4 linked regions of the Homo sapiens genome follow. The protein of the gene in region 4 purifies or fractionates together with the protein of the main gene of each other region. This does not show direct contact. Each region holds a gene or a part of one and is shown on either strand. Other genes may lie near its edges.

Region 1 (4,292 bases), on a different chromosome or scaffold from region 4:
GCAGTAGTTTCTAACCCCTGTTCTATAGTAGTTACAACAATTTCACAACCTATGTTTACAGATTCTTCATAAATACATGCATACTGACACTATAATCATGGGAGGTGTAACCATGATTAGTAGGCGAGGTACCTACCACTTTTTTTTTTTTCTTCCCCTGGCTACTTGAGTAGAATGCATTATACCAGATCTGGTCACTTTCATTGAAATGGTTTCTAATTTTCTTCCCAAGTGCTGTTGGGTTTTTTTCTTCTTAAGGAAAACGTTGTCACTTTTATGTTATAAACTTGAATTTATAAAGTGCTGGTAAATTATTTTTAATGATTTGAGTGCATGTTTTAAACCTCTAGGACCAGAGCATAGTCAGAGCATTTTCTTTTAAATTGTGCACTAACAAAATGCTATATAATCTGTCTTCTGTCCAAGATCTCCTGGTTTCCATTGTAAGGGATTTAACCAAAATCTTGCTCTTCCATAATCTTACTCTGTGAAATAGAGGAATTCGTGTGCCTTAGATTTAGAAGTGTGTTCTTTAATAGAGTGTACAGGGCTAAAAGAGTATTTAAGTTAATATGTAGGTTTCCCCCATCTGTATTCCAATTGTAGAGGTGAGTTTTGTTAAGAGTACAATTGCAAATCTTATCTATATAGGAAAATAGCTAAATGTCATTCTCCATCTCTTTGTTTTAGTTTACTGCTTCCATGTGCAATCCTAAGCATTCTTTGCTGGGGCAACTAAATGTATCTTTATTAGTGACTTCTAGTCCAAATATAAGAAACTGTCATGTTTTGTGGGAAAATAATTTTATAATCCATTTAAAGTGAAAGTTTATCACACAAATAGTACACTTATTTTCTAACCAAATACTTGATAGGTTATGCTACTCCAGTGTAGATGGCCATTCCTAACTTGTTTGTGCCTGAAGATGGACTTGATTCAAATGGTTTACATATTTAGTGGGTAAGGGATATGTTACAGTACCCCACCTGTAAGTTATTTATTAGCCCTAATTGTGTTTGATTTCAGACAAAATTAACCCTTTTCTCCTGTGTATCTTTGAAGTGGCAGATAAGGTGAAGCATCAGACTGGTATCAATATTAGACAATGTTATTTATTAGCCCTAATTGTGTTTGGTTTCAGACAAAACCTTTTCTCCTGTGTATCTTTGAAGTGGCAGACAAGGCGAAGCATCAGACTGGTATTAATGTTAGAGAATGTTCTGAAGTGTTCCTATTTTGTAGTTATCTATTCCATTTGACATAGTAGAAGGTACATTTTCTTTCTACTCTGATGCATGGGGAAGGATGTTTTTGGACATTATCAACTGAGATAGGTGGGAAACCTCCTCTCATTTGTGGCTTAGAGAGCTATCACCATTTCAGAACTATGATGCTTTTCTTCTCAGAACTTGTGTTAAGTAGATAGTAAACAGATTGATTCATGATAATTGTCCTTGACTAAGACTGAAAAGACTAATGGGATGCCTTTTACTTTGCTAATTTTAAAAACTGGTGATAGATGTCAAATCCATTAATTTATTTAAACTCTTCTTAACCTTCTCTTTTATAATCTGTTCTCAGGTTTTAACTCCATGTTTACCATCATTTGCAAAAAGGTACCAAAAAAATCCATAAATAAATATGGAATACATTCATAAGTACATACATTCTTTTGGTATAAAACAATATTTTGACAGTTTAGGCTTCATTAATAGAACTATTCTGATTATTTGGACTGCATTAATTGGTCATTGACTGGCCATCCAATTACCATTTTTTCTTTCAGTCCAAAATAGTTAGACCCTTGCATACAGAAGTGGTATTTTGGTTTTTAATCAGATTTGGTTTCATCAGAAGCAGCAAGAATGGACCTGATGTCTTTAAAAGCATAGCCGACAATGGTAGCTTCTCAAGTTATGAAATAAAACTGAGAGATAATGGAGAAAATAATTTTTATGGGTTTTTTTGGTTATGGTGCTATTCCTAAGGTTAACTTTGAATATGTGACACACACACTCCTAAGTACCTTTAAGGAAAATTAATAAATCATTAATAGTTAAAATGTTTACATTGAGCACTAGAACATGTTTGGCCTTTTTTTTCTACGTTATGCAAAATGCCCAGGGATTTAATGCACAGGTGTACTTTAATGTTTAGGGTCAGTTTGTAGTATTCTTGAGAAAAAGATAAAGGGTTATAATTTGAATGTGAACTGATCCAGAAATAAGTGCTGTACCTTTCCACTGCACTTGAAGTTCAACTTAATGGTGTATGTGAAAAACAAAAACTACTTTGGTTGTGTATGTCCAAAGTCCTATGGTTTTATTCATTTATGGTTTTACAGGCTTTGAAGTACTCAGATTTGATTTTTGCTTTCTTGGAAAGACTCACTTTACCAAGCATATAAAGGAAAAATGATTTCAAACATTGACAAGATAGATGAGTGTTAACAAAGCTTTCTTTTTTCGTGTCCTCCTTATTTAAAAAGGTATACTTACAATGTGAAGTAACTTATGAATAAAAGGAAAAGTTTATCCCATATTCAAATAATTCCTAAGGTCAGCCTCCCTTTTTGTAAGTGGCAAATATCTGATTAAATCATTTCTCAGTTTATTAATCCTTGGAAACAATGATATAGCAGTTACTCACAGCTTGTAAATTACAACAGAAAGGTTCCTTTCAAATAGTAGAGCTGCACCTAAAGAGGAAATTGGGTTTATAAGAAAATGGAGGCAAAGAACTTAAGTTTTAAGAAAAAGCACTTCAAAACAGAAGGGCAAATGGAAAAGGGGAATATAAAACAAACCAATAAAAATACCATCTGAGGGTGTTACTGTCCAAAAGTAAAGAATAAGATGCATCACTAAGCCCTTTGCACTCGTTATGACCTCGTAAGTAAAAATTATCACTTAGAATAAGGGGTGCACACTACATTCCCTCTGTCTTCTAGACTTTTTTTTTTGTAGAAGAATCAGAAAACAATTTACTAACCTCCCTGTTTGATATTAAAAATAGGAAGAATTTTAATATTTTCTGTTAGTACAAGTTGAACTTGATTGTGCCAACTGAAACCCCAGAGGTTTGTATATCAGTAGAATGCAAGAACATTGTTAAAGGTGCTTACGATCTTTTTTGTTTTCCTTTCCACTCCATTGTATCAATTTTTTGAGTAACTTTTAAATGGCTAGAAAATGGTCTTTTTGCTTTGCCCTTTTAAAGCTGAAATAACCAGCTCCATTCTTTTCATGAATAGTAAGTTGATATATTTATTTATCAGGTATCTTGCAGTTGTCACCAAATACTGTAGTTTTCTTATGTTGTATGGAAATTATAGTTCAATTATTTTAATGTGATAGAGTGCAACAAGTCATTGTAGAACTTTTCACCTGTTAATGTTGAAGTTATACCTCTGAATTTCTGCTGTGGATATCAAGGAAATAATAAAGCAGAAACCCCAAGAAATTTGCAACTTAACAGTTTGAGACTGTCTCTTATCCTAGTATTTGGGAAGAGAAGGAATAAATTTGTCAAAACTAGGTGAGAAAATAGAGCATTGTGGGAAAAACTGAGTCCAACTAGATTAGCAAATGTTAATTCCTAGCTCAAACTGTGAATAGTAAGGATTGAAAAGTAAAGTATGTAATGCTAAGGGCTGTGTTGTCTTTTCTTACGATTTTAAGTTTTAAAGGCTGTTAAATTACAGAGATGTTGCCCAAGGATACATGGGGATTCTCAAAAGTAAGAGATTTTTACCTTTTTCATAATCTGCCAAGCTGGTTCCTAATATATTGTTAAATTGGTAGAAAAATATCTTTAAATTGGTGTCTGCTCAAGAATTGCTTTTCTAGATTTGATGGAGGGAGGGGGAGAGTCACATCATTTGGATTCTACCAATCTGCAGGCTCTATCTTTGGCAACATGTAAATAATTAGACTATACATCTGTTTCTCAAGTATGGCAAGACCAATAGTTTGAATTTAATTATCAATGCTATGGTATACTTTCTGGTCATATTTTAGTTATGTCAGTTTTAAGGTAAGTTTTTTCATTTATTAAAGCCCTTAAATGAGATTTTAGACTGCCAAAGAGAAGAGGCAGTCCAATTGACCTAACTGAAATGAGATGACCAGTATATAGAGCCTAGATGGACTGTAGCAGCTCTACCCCTTTGTTTTACAAGGTAAATCATTTTAAAAATTACCTTTTTTGATCAGTGGGTAAAAGTTAAAGGGATCTTTAATTTTTGATATATTCAAGTTAATTTTCTAAATGTGAATCAGTCCTTGGACTG
Region 2 (4,292 bases), on a different chromosome or scaffold from region 4:
TCCGCTCTCACTATCCCTTTTAGCATCTTGAAGACTTCAGCCATATTTGCTCTTAACCACCTTTTTCCCCGTGAGTACAGCCCTAGTTTTCCTTAGCTCTAAATAAATCTGATTGCCCTTTATTGGTGTTTTTCATTCTTCGGATATTTTATTCTGGCCTCTTTGTATTCAAATAGTTTGTGTGCCTAATCTGTTCCTTGACTAATACTTTTCGTGCCTTTTGTGCTTTATGATGAACTTTGTATTTTCAATGCACTGTTTAGAGAATTTGTGGTGATTCTGCAACTCCTTTATATCTTAAAAAAAAAAGACTGTAACATTTTTCACTGCTCCTACTCCATAGGATTTTTACTTTTATTAGTGCAGAAATATGTGTGAGATAATCCTTTGCTATTAATTGGTCTCTTTTACTTTTACCTTTATACTGCCATTTATTTCTTCATGCTTCTTTATTTGTTAACCCCATTTCTTATTGTATATTATCTTCTACTAATAAATTTCTTACTATGTTACTGCACATTTCAAGTTCTGGTTTTCTGATTTTTATCTTTTTTTCACCTCAGCTAGTCTTTTATCAAATGTAGCAAATTGCAAGTTGACTTCTGCTCTTTTACTCATAAATCTATGTTCTTTTTCATCACAAAGTCATTCTTGGGAAAGCCTTTCAGTCTGAGGCTTAGTTTTTAAAGTGGATTCTTAGCTATTTTTTAAGTAGTTTGATCTTAAGATTGATTTCTTAAATGTATGCAAATCTGATTTAGTTATTTTCCCGTTGGTAGACCTATCATTCCATTTTCTGTGTTGTTTCTGGGATATATGTCTCTACTTATTAAAAGGTGACTTATTCAGACTTATTCAGAAGAGCATACATTAAACTATAAGGCCAGTGAAGGCAGGGGTTTTGTCCATTACTCTATCCTTATCTCCTAGGGAGGTCATAGTCCATAGGAGGCACTAAGTAAATCTTTGTTGAGTGAATTTAAGCTGTGTGTTCAGCAATGGTGAACAGCTATGTTGAATCACAGACTCCAGTGTCTCTTGTAACTGGTAATACAGAATTGTGAACAAAGTTATGAGAATTATAGGTAAAACTGGTGACCTTGGAGTACTTTCCTAGATGGAGCAGAATACGGGTTTTAGAGTTGTTTAAGCACTCTATTTGAATCATTTGGAACATGTAACATATAATGCTATAACTTAGCATTATTCAATTGCTAAAATTGTTAGTCTTAGTTGAAGTAATTTCTATCTCCATAGATGTAGTAAAATTGGGAACTCAACCAAGACTGAGGTTAATAACTTGTTTCGGTATTGCCTGGGCAAATTTTTGATTTACTACTTTTGAATAATGTCTTATATCTCTATTATATGATTATTAGAGTGAATGGCATAAAAGTGGTATTTTTGTTGCAAAATCTATTTTCTCTTGGTTTAGGTTCAGAGCACTGGTGAAGGAGAAGCACAGAGATATTTTGATCATGCACTTACTCTGAGAAACACAATACTGTTTCTGCGTCATAACAAAGATCTAGTTGCGCAAACTGCACAGCCAGACCAACCCAATTATGGTATGATAAATATATTTAATTTTGAAGACATGATCATATGAAACTTTTTTCTAAGAAATTAAACAGATCATGCTCACTTATATAATCATCACTTACGTATTTTGTGTAGATAGCATATTGAATTTATAACTAGAGGCCTGTTTTGTGAATTTCTTGCTTGTTAACTGTTTCTTAACCTTATTTTACTTTTCTCATGTGCCACTAACATTTGTAGTATTTAAATCTGTTCAATACCTGCAAAAGTGTTGGTGTTAATTTATTTAAGTAGCTGGATGGAATTTAGAACAGGCATCAGCTCTGAGGGGTGAACAAGGGCAAAATTTTAGTTAATGTAGGAAGCATAAAATTTCAAGAATGAAAGATTCCATCATAATGAAAAGAATAAAGAGGAGCCTTCTGTTCAAATGCTACTGCAATACTTACCAAAAGATTTTACTTTTAAAAAGGAAATAGATAATTCTTTTTAAAGAGTAAAAGAAGTAGCAGCAATTTTAAGGTATTGATGAACTTTAATGGAGCTGTTGCCCTACTGGGCACTCTCAGTTTTGTGATAGTTGGGGGTTCCCAAACTTTAGTTGAATTGATGGTGTCAGAATTTCTACCCAGATGGGGATTTGGATTCAGTAGGTTTTGAGGTGTGGCATGGCACTCAGGAATGTGTGTTTTTTAAAAGATGATTCCAGTGCTCAGCTAGGCTTGGGCACCCCTGCATGAGCACTTGGCTCAAGTTCTTAGACATTCACAAGAGTTGTGTCTTGGGGCTTCATGGGTCCTCAATACCACTATAACGTTTAATTTTGATTAGTTTCATTTACCTAAAAACTATTTTTTCTGGCCAAGAACATCAGTTTCTTAATCATCTCCATTTTCATTTATTCTCTCACTAGCATCTGGCTTTCTTTTCAGCTCAATTTTAAAAATTGAGGGAGGATTCAGCTGTTACTTAACAAGCTGTCACATAGGTGAGAACAAACATGCTGGGTAGTTTACTTGAGTGAGGCTAGACTCACTTGGTATCAAGTGATTCACTTCTGCAGCCTTAATATGCCTTATCTGAAGAATTACAGATTGTTACATACTGGGGCTTTTGAGATCATTCATAAATAGTTAAAACTGAGAATATTAAATTGCCAAATGCCGAGAGTCCTAAGCACTTACTGGTAGGCATTTGTTGATGGATAACCATTTTTGGTTAATAAATACTAAATCATGTGATAAAGCAGTGGTGAGTGGCACAGTCTTGAGGATGTCTTTGGATATAAAACTCCTGGAATTTCTGGGACTTTTTAGTGATTTATGGAGATAATGTATTAGATGATTTGAAATACTCTGTTAAAGCTGTCTTGAAATACATTGTCCTTTCCTGCCTATCACAGAATGTGAGAACATTAGAGAGTACTAGTGACCAGTGAAGTGTAACTCCTATTATAGATAAAGAAATTGGAGTTTATATTAGCTAAATCTTCTGCTTGTTTTTTAGTCATCAAAGCCCATATTATTAGTAAATGGAAGAGCCAGGAATGGAAGACTTGAATCTGTGTCTGTTGATTTTTTTTTTTCCATTGCCCTGTCCCTATATTATCTTCTCTTGAACGCTAAGCTTTGTATTCATTTACCCATAAACATTTGTTGCTTAGTAGTCTGGGCTGGGCTAAATTTTTTCCCCATGAATAGTCAGTGTACCATGAAGTAAGTTAAATGGTAAATCTAAACCTATTCTCTATGAAAATAGTCCTGTGCAATCCTAACCTTTAAGGTGGGTTTAATGTTAGACTGTTCCTGACCCTAGTTGGAGATTTAATTGCTTAGAATAATTGCTGGGTCTCCAAAGTTAAATTTGATGAATGCCTCCCCTTAAGACCAAACCTGCAATTACTTATGAAATTTCATTTTTGCTACCAGCATTTCTTAGCTTAGCTCCTCATCTGAATTGCAGAACATGGAAATGATTGGCGTGACTATTTCTCAGTTTTTCTAATGATGGTGCACATTAGTACCGTTCTCAATGCATGAAAAAGGTCATTCGTTCTATGTAGAGGATATCTTAGGGCATTAAGGCTTCATGCTCAGCCTGTTGAGAAATGTTGCTTTCTGCAGTTACTGGGCTTGGTAACTGAACCTTACTCTTTTTTAGAAAAGAAATTCTCTGCCGGGTGTGGTGGCTCATGCCTGTATTCCCAGCACTTTGGGAGCTCGAGGCAGGCGGTTCACTTGAGGTCAGGAGTTCAACACCAGCATGGCCAACATGGTGAAAACTCGTGTTTACTAAAGATATAAAAATTAGCCAAGTGTGGTGGCAGGCACCTGTAATCTTAGCTGCTCGGGAGGCTGAGGCAGGAGAATTGCTTGAACCTGGGAGGCTGAGGTTGCAGTGAGCTGAAATGACACCACTGCACTCCAGCCTGGGTGACAGACTGAGACTCCGTCTCAGAAGAAAAAAAAGAAATCCTCTAGTATTGGTGTTTTAAGCGTCTTGTTTGAGGAAAAAGAATTTTCTTTTTATGTCACTAATAATTTATACTTTGAGTATATCATGTAGTACTTGTTATCTACTATAAAGCAAAAGCATTGTGATATTATACAAGCAAACTCTGTTATACATGGAACTAGTGTCTTAGTCCTAGGAGTCCTTAATCCCTTGGTTTTAAATAGCACGGCGTACTGTTTATAAATAAAAGTCATGCGTGGTCTGTTTTTTTCTCGTTTTCTAAGCATGATTTTTTT
Region 3 (4,963 bases), on a different chromosome or scaffold from region 4:
AGACAACTCGAGAACATGGTCAGAGAGAGAAAAGATGGTGTGTAGATGCTGGGGAGGGCAGGAGGTTATTCCAGGGAATGACAAGTGCAATAAGGTGGCCTGGACAGGTGGTTAAAGTAGAGAGGAGGTGAAGGTTCCCGGAGTTGGGCAGGTGAAAGAATCATGAAACTGTGCCTGGAAATTCTTCCAAGATTAATTCATTAATTCATTTATTTCACACATTTGTTTTAAGTGTCTTGTACACGCCAAGCAGTGTTCTCGGCATTAGGTGAACCAGCTGGACAAGCCCCTGGTGCCATGGGGCTTACCTTCCAGCAGGGGGAGAACTACACAAACAAGGCCAGGTTAGCGGAGCATGCAGGCTCACAAGCCTGTAGGCACAATCCTGCAATGCCAAAACTTCTGAAAAGCATAAGGTTGTTTTTTCATACTTTGGAGCCCAAACTCAATAGATGACAAAACCTGACCTGAAGTAGTGTGAGGCTATTTATAGTCTTTATTCACACTTGGTGTGAATTTTCATACCTTTCACTTCAGAAATATTAATATTTCATTACGATGCTCCAGGCTTTTCTCAATAGTTATATAATATAGACTATACAAAAAGTTATGTTTGACTAGTTTTTTTAAAGAGTTATGTAATATAAATTACATGTCTTCCTTTCTCAAATTGAAAAAAACTCTGAATTCCACAGCACATCTGGCCCTAAGGTTGGAAAATGGATTACGGACATGCAAGTGCTATGAAGATAATTCAAATATGCAATGGGATAGTGTCTAGGTGGCTACAGTTTGAATATTTAGGGAGGACCCCTCTGGGAAGGTGATATTTAAGCTTAGTTCTGAATGAAAAAAAATAAAAGCAGTCATGCAAAGATCAGGGGAGAGCATTCCAAGCAGAGGGAGCAGCTAATGCAAAGATGAACACAAAGGAGGCCACTGTGGCTACAGCATATTGGGCCGGATGAAGAGTGCTATAAATTGATGGAAGCACTTCATGTAGATAGGAAAATTGTGAGACCGGTGTGCTAAATCCTTTGGTAAATACGGTGTAGTGATTATGAGTGTGGTGGCTGTCAACAACTAGAAGGCCTGGAGGGGAATCTTCCTGGGTGAGAAAGCAAGTGGGGGGAGATATTTCAGATAGAGAAAACATAAAGCAGTTCTGAGGCTGAAATGGTGGGCTAAGATTTATGGCCTGAAGACCTTGGTTTGAGGAAAAGTATAGAAGGAAGACAGATTAGATATCTGGGCTCAAGACTCTAATGACATAGCTTCTGGAAGCTGCCTGAAAGATGTTCTAGGATGACAAAGACCTGGGTCTTAAATAATAGTCTCTGGTTGAAGTCCAATCTGCAGTGTGTGATCTGGGCTTTTGGACTTAAATTAGACAAAGATAGAGGAGAGTAGCAAAGCCTGAACTGATGAAAGATGTTTTTGCCTCTTTAGGTTTGTGCTTCTCAGCAGCTGTCCTAGAATGTCTGTCTCCAAGCATCTCTCTTAGCGGCTTTCCACATTCATCTCTCTGTGATCCTACCTGGCATCTCTCTTCCTATCTCGGCCTCAACATATTTCTCTTTACATGGCTCTCTCTCTCTCTAACTCAGACTCCTCATCTTTGGATCTCCTTGTCTGAGTGTCCCAGAATCTGGTTCCGTCCATTCGTCTGTGTCTGTACTGTAATTCTCTTTCTCCACCTGGACTGTGCCCTCCTGGAAGGCATGAATCTTTTATTATTCCGCTGGGTATCCCAGGTGCCCCGCACACCGTCTAGCATATAGGAGTCTCAAATACATTCATACTTGAATTAAGACTTTTTCAGAGGAGAAAGGCATCCGTTCTCAATATCCACCCCTCTTCCCCCACGCGGAGCAGGCCACTTGCCAAAAGGCCAGCTAGAGAGTAGGGCGAGGGGTGTTGTGGTATTGTACTTCTGCTATTGGTCTCTTTCCCCAGTTGAAATAACTCTGGGGATACCTTAGCAGGCGGAATCCGCCCTCTGGCCAAAGGACTAGCGTACCAGGCCACGCCCCCACGTCTCATGCGGCAGCGGCAGACGCCCCGGCCCGTCGCATCCGCCCCTTCCGCCGCTTCGCCTCGGCCAATCAACGAGCGCCCGCGCCCCCATCCCCATCCCGTGGAGTGGCCGGCGACAAGATGGCAGCAGCGTGTCGGAGCGTGAAGGTAGAAGGTTCTTTGCCTCTGTTGCTTGCCTTCCTTTACGGGCCGGGACAGCGCGGCCGTGGAACTAGGAGAAAGAGATCGGTTTCGAGGGAAAGGGTCATGCTTATGTAGGCCTGGTATTGTGGCCGTTGGGCTCAAGAGGTGAAAGTCAGCACTCCGCGGCGCATCTGTCTGTCTGTCTGTCTGTCTATCTATCTATCTATCAATCATCTATCTATCTATCGTCACGGGACGGGCTGTCTGGGGATGAGATCCCTTCTGCCCCCGAGGTCCCAACGCTGAGGAGAAGCAGCACACCTAGTTTACCCGCAGGGGTGACCACGACCTCTCCCCTCCCCCCTTCTCCTCAGAAGCCTGGAGAACAGGCAGGCGACAGCGTGGGGATGGTCTGGGCAATGTAACAGCTGACCCTGACCATGTCCCTTTTGACAGGGCCTGGTGGCGGTAATAACCGGAGGAGCCTCGGGCCTGGGCCTGGCCACGGCGGAGCGACTTGTGGGGCAGGGAGCCTCTGCTGTGCTTCTGGACCTGCCCAACTCGGGTGGGGAGGCCCAAGCCAAGAAGTTAGGAAACAACTGCGTTTTCGCCCCAGCCGACGTAAGTGGGGTCACCTCTCCTCTCCCAGGGTGTGCATGAGGTCACCAACACCGGCCTGGGAACCTGTGGGGGTCCCTCCCATAAGGGTCTCCTCTATGGGGGCGGTAGACCCATCTCCTTGTCTCTTTTGGCCTGAGCCTTCAAGCACTGTGGGACCACCTGTGATAAGGATTCTCTAAAGCTGGGATTCACAACAATGAGGATGGGGATTGGACGTAACAATCTCCTGGAGGAGTTATGTATGGTTTGAAAATGCATTTTGTGCCTTGTAATTTTATATTTACAAAGTCAAAAAACTTGTTTTCATGAAACAAACTACAGAAAGTGAAACTTGATGAAATCATCTTAGCAGGTAAGGATACAAAAAAGCTAGTTTATCTTCCTATCAATAATTCTCACAAGAGGGTTATTTTTTATTTTTATTTTTGAGATGGAGTCTCGCTCTGTTGCCCAGGCTGGAGTGCAGTGGCACAATCTCAGCTCCTTGCAACCTCCATCTTCTGGGTTCAAGCGATTTTCCTGCCTCAACCTCCCAAGTAGCTGGGATTACAGGCACCTGCCACCACGCCCAGCTAATTTTTTTTTTTGTATTTTTAGAAGAGATGGGGTTTCACCATGTTGGCCGGGCTGGTCTTGAACTCCTGATCTCACGTGATCCGCCCGCCTCGGCCTCCCAAAGTGCTGGGATTACAGGTGTGAGCCACTGCACCCAGCCTCACAACAGGGTTGCATTAGTGCTCTGATCCACAGCAATTAAGAATCTTCAGGAGCATGTGAATTTATCAAGAAGGTATTGATTTGAAAAATGTTTTTGCAACACTGCTCTATATTACCTAATATTTTCACCTTTGACCTACTCTCTCAATTTTTTTTTTTGGGACAGAGTCTCACTGTTGCCCAGGCTGCAGTGCAATGGCACGATCTCAGCTCACTGCAACCTCTGCCTCCCGGGTTCAAGCGATTCTTCTGCCTCAGCCTTCCAAGTAGCTGGGATTACAGGCATGTGTCACTATGCCGGCTAATTTTGTATTTTTAGTAGAGACGGGTTTTCACCACGTTGGCCAGGCTGGTCTCAAACTCCTGATCTTAAGTGATCCACCAGCCTCGGCCTCCCAAAGTGCTGAGATTACAGGCATGAGCCACCGCACCCAGCCTATCTCTCAAGTTTTACAACCTTTCTCTTGGCCTCTCCCTTCTCACAAATCTCTTCTCACCCAAGGACTGGGCATGCCCTGCCCTGCCCTCCCTCAGGTTTAGTGGGAAGAGTGGGTGCTGGGAGATGAATACCTTCTCCACTTCTCTCTTTGAAGGTGACCTCTGAGAAGGATGTGCAAACAGCTCTGGCTCTAGCAAAAGGAAAGTTTGGCCGTGTGGATGTAGCTGTCAACTGTGCAGGCATCGCGGTGGCTAGCAAGACGTACAACTTAAAGAAGGGCCAGACCCATACCTTGGAAGACTTCCAGCGAGTTCTTGATGTAAGGCCTTGGAAGTTCTCCAGGGATAGTGGTAGTAAGAAGTATCTGGCTGTGGAGGACCCCAAAGTTTTTAGGGGACAAAGGCTTCTTCTGCCTCAGGTCCTATAGCATGTCTCCATCTGTCCTACAGGTGAATCTCATGGGCACCTTCAATGTGATCCGCCTGGTGGCTGGTGAGATGGGCCAGAATGAACCAGACCAGGGAGGCCAACGTGGGGTCATCATCAACACTGCCAGTGTGGCTGCCTTCGAGGGTCAGGTGTGTGGGCAGGGGTAAGACTTATGCCTCCTAAGTGACTTGTTGGGGCCCTCCCACCTATGACTTCTACTCTTTCTCCAGGTTGGACAAGCTGCATACTCTGCTTCCAAGGGGGGAATAGTGGGCATGACACTGCCCATTGCTCGGGATCTGGCTCCCATAGGTATCCGGGTGATGACCATTGCCCCAGGTAGACATATCCCCTCTCTCCATCATACCTGGGATTGGGTGGGATCCATGGACAGTTGAGAGGGGAAGGTATCCACCACCTAAGCAGCAGCAGCCTTTTATCTTTGGGCCCCAGAGAAGCACCAAGAAGTAGGGCTAAAGTAAGGAAGAACCAGGTAATCATGAAAGCAAGGGTGAGTCTCTGAATTTGGCTATATTGTTTAGGTCTGTTTGGCACCCCACTGCTGACCAGCCTCCCAGAGAAAGTGTGCAACTTCTT
Region 4 (4,876 bases):
GATTCTCCTGCCTTGGCCTCCCAAGTAGCTGGGATTACAGACGTACACCACTGCATCTGGCTAATTTTTGTAGTTTTAGTAGAGATGGGGTTTCGCCTTGTTGGGCAGGCTGGTTTCAAACTGCTGACTTCAAGTGATCCGCCCTTCTCGGCCTCCCAAAGTGCTGGGATTACAGGCGTGAGCTAACGCGCCCGTCCTGTTTTTTTCTTTGGGCAGGATCTTGTTCCATTTCTCAGGCTGCAGTGCAGTGGTGTGATCATGGCTCGCTACAGCCTCCACCTCTTGGGCTCAAGCGATCCTTCCACCTCAGCCTCCTAAGTAGCTGGGACCACAGATGTGCATCACCATGCCAGCTAAGCTGTTAAAGTTTTGTAGAGACGGAGGCCTCCGTATGTTGTCTAGGCTGGTCTCAAACTGGCCTCAAGCAATCCTCCCGCCTCAGCCTCCCAAAATGTTGGGATTCTGGGTGTGAGCACCACACCTAGCAACATTTTTATTGTATTGTATTGTATTTATTGTATTGTATTGTATTTTTTGAGATGTGGTCTCACACTGTTGCCCAGGCTGGACTGCAGTGGCATGATATTAACTCACTGTAGTCTTTGCAGCCTTGAGAGAACTTTAAAAAAAAAAAAAACTTGCTAGCCTTGAACTCCTGGGCTCAGTCAATCTTCTTGCCTCAGCCTCCTGAGTAGCTAGGACTACAGGTGTGCACCATCATGCCTGGCTAATTTTTTATTTTTTGTGGAGGCAGGGTCTCAATATGTTACTCAGCCTGATCTCAAACTCCTAAGCTCAAGCAATTCTCCTCCCTTGGCCTCCCGAAGTGCTGGGATTATAAGCATGAACCACCATACCATGCCCAGCCTAAAAATAGTTTTAGAAGATGTGAGGAACACTTCCTTCAGTTATCACCTATAATAAAGTGCCTATTTAAGGAAAAGCCCTAAGGGATAGTATAGAAATCTTGTTGGCCAGGATGGTCTCGAACTCCTGGCCTCAAGCAGTTCTCCTGCTTGATTTATAGTTTTTTTGAGAGCATTTTGTTGTTGTTGTTTCCTTTCTTCCATGTAATGCTTTATAATGTCGTTTTCTGCTTTTGGTAACATGTTAATGCTGACCTCACAATGAATTGAGAAGTATTTCTTCCTCTTCTGTTTTCTGCAGTAGTGTCTGTAGAATTGTTGTTATTTCTTCCTTAATGTTTGATGACATTTACCAGTGAAGCTACATGGGCCTAGAGTTTTTTTTTGGTGGAAAATTTTAAACTACAAATTCAATCTTATCGGTAGATACGTGACTACTTGGTATCTGTTTCTTCTTGGATAAGCTTTAGCAAGTTGTATCTTTCTAGGGATTTGTTCATTTTACTATATTGTCAGAGTTCATTATAGTCCCTCGTGATGCCATGAATGAATGTAGAGATTGTAGTTGTCCCCTCTCTTAATTCTGTTTTTGGGAATTTGTGGCTTCCCTTTTTTCCCCCGACTGTCTGGCCAGAGGCTTAGTAGTTTTATTGATCTTACGGAACCAGCTGGGGTGTGGCATGTGCCTATAGTCCCATCTGCTTGGCAGGAATATTGCTTGAGCCCAGGAGTTCAGGAATGTAGTGTGCTATGATCATACCTGTGAGTAGTCACTGCACTCCAGTCTTTGGGCAACAGTAAGACTCTGTCTCTTAAGAAACAAAAAACAAAACAAAACAAAAAACTGCTCTTGGGATTTTGGTGGGTTTTTTTTGTTTTTCTCTATTGTATTTGCTTTCTAGGTCATTTATTAATTTGTGTTTTCTTTGAGCTTAATTTTATTTTCTTTTCCTGGATGTATACTCTTTTTTTTTTTTTTTTTAAGGTGGGGAAGCTTAGGTCATTAATTTGATACCTTTCTCTCTTCTAATATAAGCATTTAATTCTATAATTTTTCGATAAGAATTGCTATTGCTCAATACTATTTTCTAGCTACAAGAGAAATTAGTAAAATGAATTTTTTAGTTGAACACGTTTTATAAACTTAAATAGGGTTATATAAGTAAGGAAATCAGAGGAGAATGAAATTCAATAGGAGCCTGACAGTGTCTGCCATGGCCACAATTTTTAAAATCGAGCTACATGCTATATGTGCAATGTCATTGCTATAAATTTACAATCCACCTAAGCCATTGCATGTCACATAGACACCTCTACTTGCTTTTTAGGGGTGGTAAGTTCGCCTGAAGTTTACTTTAAAATTTTCCTTTGGCCGGGTGTGGTGGTGTGTGCCTGTAATCCCAGCTACTTGGGAGGCTGAGGTGGGAGGATTGCTTGAGCCTGGCAGGTGGAGATAGTAGTGAGCTGAGATTGTGCCACTGCACTTCAGCCTGGGTGACAGAGTAGAACCTCTCTCAAAAAAAAAAAACAACCAGCAAAAAAATGTTTTTCCCTTTAATTTTTTGCTACATGATTGCCTGATAGTAAAAGCCAAAATGTGGTTTCTTTAGTTTTTTATTAGCAACTCACACTTTTTTTTTTTACCTATTTATTATGGAAAATTTTAAGCATATTCAAAAGTTGAAGTAGTTTATTGAGCCTCTTTGTTAGCTAATTTCGGTAATTATCAGCAGATGGCCAGTCTTCTTTCCTCTGTATCCCATCACATCTGAATTATTTTGAAGCTAATCTCAGAATTCATTGTTTCATTAATTAATACTCTGGCATATATATTTAAAAGATAAAGCCTTTTTTATTTTTAAAAATACTATCACAATGTCATTATTATACCCTTAAAAATGAGCAGTAATTCTGTAATATCCTGAAATATCCAGTGTTCAATTTTAGATTATCTTACGATTTCTTTCCTCTATAGTATGTTTGAGTCAGGAGCTAAGTAAGTTCCACTCAAACAACGTATTTTGTGATTCATTAAGTTTAGTAAAATCTGTGGCATTAGAACTTTACCAAGGGAAAAACTGTAGAAGTTTGCATTTCTTGTTATCATAATGAAAACCTTCATTGTAATTAATGGAATTACTAGTTGAAGAATGCAGTGGTGAACAAAGTAAACATTTGTCTCTATGTTTTAGTCATTTTAAAGAATGGTGTTTTGACTTTATAGTTAAAACTTTTAATTCTTGTCTTTCTCTAGGCAGGTAATAGATAAACTTTTCTTGATTTTGTTCGTTTTGATTTTTTTTTTTTTTTGAGATGGAGTCTCGCTCTGTCACCAGGCTGGGGTGCAGTGGCGCAATCTCTGGCAACTTCTGCCTCCCGGGTTCAAGTGATTTTCCTGCCTCAGCCTCCTGAGTAGCTGCGACTACAGGCGCGCACCACCATGCCCAGCTGATGTTTGCATTTTTAGTGGAGATGGGGTTTCGCCATGTTGGCCAGGCTGGTCTCGAACTCCTGACCTCAGGTGATCTGCCCGCCTCAAGCCTCCCAAAGTGCAGGTGTGAGCCACTGTGCCTGGCCTGTTTTGCTTTGTTATCATTTGTGTGTTCACTGGAGTAGCACTTTTAATTTCCTTCAAGAACTTTTCCTTGCATTCATAGCTTGGCTGTTTGGTGCAAGAGGCCTAGCTTTGTGTCTGTCTCAGCTTTCCACATGCCTTTCTCACTAAGCTTAATCATTTTTAGTAGAGGCGGGGTTTCACCATGTTGGCCAGGATGGTCTCGATCTTTTGACCTCTTGATCCACCCACCTGGGCCTCCCAAAGTGCTGGGATTACAGGCATGAGCCACCCGGCCTGGCCTTCATTTTGATATTTAAAAAAATGCGTATGCTTACTTGAATCCAGAAGTGCAAGACCAGCCTGGGGAACTTAGACCCTGTCTCTTAAAAAAAGAAAGAAAAAAAAATATGTGTATATATATATTTATGTATGTATGTATGTATGTATGTATGTATGTATGTATGTATGTATGTGCCAGGTGCGGTGTCTCACGCCTGTAATCCCAGCACTTTGGGAGGCCGAGGTCAGGAGTTTGAGACCAGCCTGGCCAATGTGGTGAAACCCCATCTCTATTAAAAATACAAAAAAATAAATAAATAAAAATTAGCTGGGCGTGGTGGCGGGCGCTTGTAATCCCAGCTACTTGGGAGGCTGAGGCAGGAGAATCGCTTGAACCTGGGAAGGCTGAGGTTGCAGTGAGCCGAGTTCGTGCCACTGCACTCCAGCCTGGGCAACAAGAGTGAGACTCCATCTCAAAAACAAAACAAAACAAAACAACAAAAACGTGTGTGTGTGTATATACACACACATATATATATCTCCATTCCAATTTGGCTGTGTAAGACACAGTCCTTGCTCTTAAAGTAGAAGGGATACAGTCAGCAGAACATAATAATGAATGGCAAGCTATTATATTTCTTATGCCGTTTGACTTGTTTTTTGGTTTAACTTGTTCTTTTTCCTGTGTTTTATGACTCCATCTCACAGGAGAGCCTTATAGATGCAAGTGAAGACAGCCAGCTAGAAGCTGCCATCAGAGCCTCCTTACAAGAAACACATTTTGATTCAACACAGACAAAACAGGATAGCCGCTCAGATGAAGAATCTGAATCTGAACTTTTTTCTGGCAGTGAGGAGTTCATATCCGTTTGTGGCTCTGATGAAGAAGAAGAGGTAGAGAATCTTGCCAAGTCCAGAAAGTCTCCCCACAAAGATTTGGGGCATAGAAAAGAGGAGAATAGAAGGCCGCTGACTGAGCCACCAGTCAGAACTGATCCTGGAACAGCCACAAACCACCAAGGATTGCCAGCTGTGGATTCAGAGATACTGGAGATGCCACCTGAAAAAGCAGATGGAGTAGTGGAGGGGATAGATGTAAATGGTAAGTTACATTTAGACATACTTTACTTCAAACTTAGATATTGGGGCCGGGCGTGGTGGATCACTGAGGTTA

What was found.
Region 1: the proteins of UBXN7 (region 4) and BRWD1 purify together in Homo sapiens (affinity purification with mass spectrometry; 2 studies listed by BioGRID and IntAct, with this or other methods). This does not show direct contact.
Region 2: the proteins of UBXN7 (region 4) and FAM91A1 purify together in Homo sapiens (affinity purification with mass spectrometry, with the first as the bait; 2 studies listed by BioGRID). This does not show direct contact.
Region 3: the proteins of UBXN7 (region 4) and HSD17B10 purify together in Homo sapiens (affinity purification with mass spectrometry, with the first as the bait; one study listed by BioGRID). This does not show direct contact.

The regions. Positions count from the first base shown.
Region 1 is NC_000021.9:39,191,602-39,195,893, reverse strand, and holds part of BRWD1 (bromodomain and WD repeat-containing protein 1), read left to right. Parts: 3' UTR 1-4,292. UniProt on the Homo sapiens protein: May be a transcriptional activator. May be involved in chromatin remodeling. Plays a role in the regulation of cell morphology and cytoskeletal organization. Required in the control of cell shape.
Region 2 is NC_000008.11:123,788,178-123,792,469, forward strand, and holds part of FAM91A1 (protein FAM91A1), read left to right. Parts: intron 1-23; coding exon of another isoform or gene 24-56; exon of another isoform or gene 57-70; intron 71-1,435; coding exon 1,436-1,568; intron 1,569-4,292. UniProt on the Homo sapiens protein: As component of the WDR11 complex acts together with TBC1D23 to facilitate the golgin-mediated capture of vesicles generated using AP-1.
Region 3 is NC_000023.11:53,431,540-53,436,502, reverse strand, and holds the start of HSD17B10 (3-hydroxyacyl-CoA dehydrogenase type-2), read left to right. Parts: upstream 1-2,132; 5' UTR 2,133-2,157; coding exon 2,158-2,184; intron 2,185-2,616; coding exon 2,617-2,781; intron 2,782-4,091; coding exon 4,092-4,256; intron 4,257-4,386; coding exon 4,387-4,515; intron 4,516-4,596; coding exon 4,597-4,705; intron 4,706-4,908; coding exon 4,909-4,963. UniProt on the Homo sapiens protein: Mitochondrial dehydrogenase involved in pathways of fatty acid, branched-chain amino acid and steroid metabolism. Acts as (S)-3-hydroxyacyl-CoA dehydrogenase in mitochondrial fatty acid beta-oxidation, a major degradation pathway of fatty acids.
Region 4 is NC_000003.12:196,362,222-196,367,097, reverse strand, and holds part of UBXN7 (UBX domain-containing protein 7), read left to right. Parts: intron 1-4,410; coding exon 4,411-4,804; intron 4,805-4,876. UniProt on the Homo sapiens protein: Ubiquitin-binding adapter that links a subset of NEDD8-associated cullin ring ligases (CRLs) to the segregase VCP/p97, to regulate turnover of their ubiquitination substrates.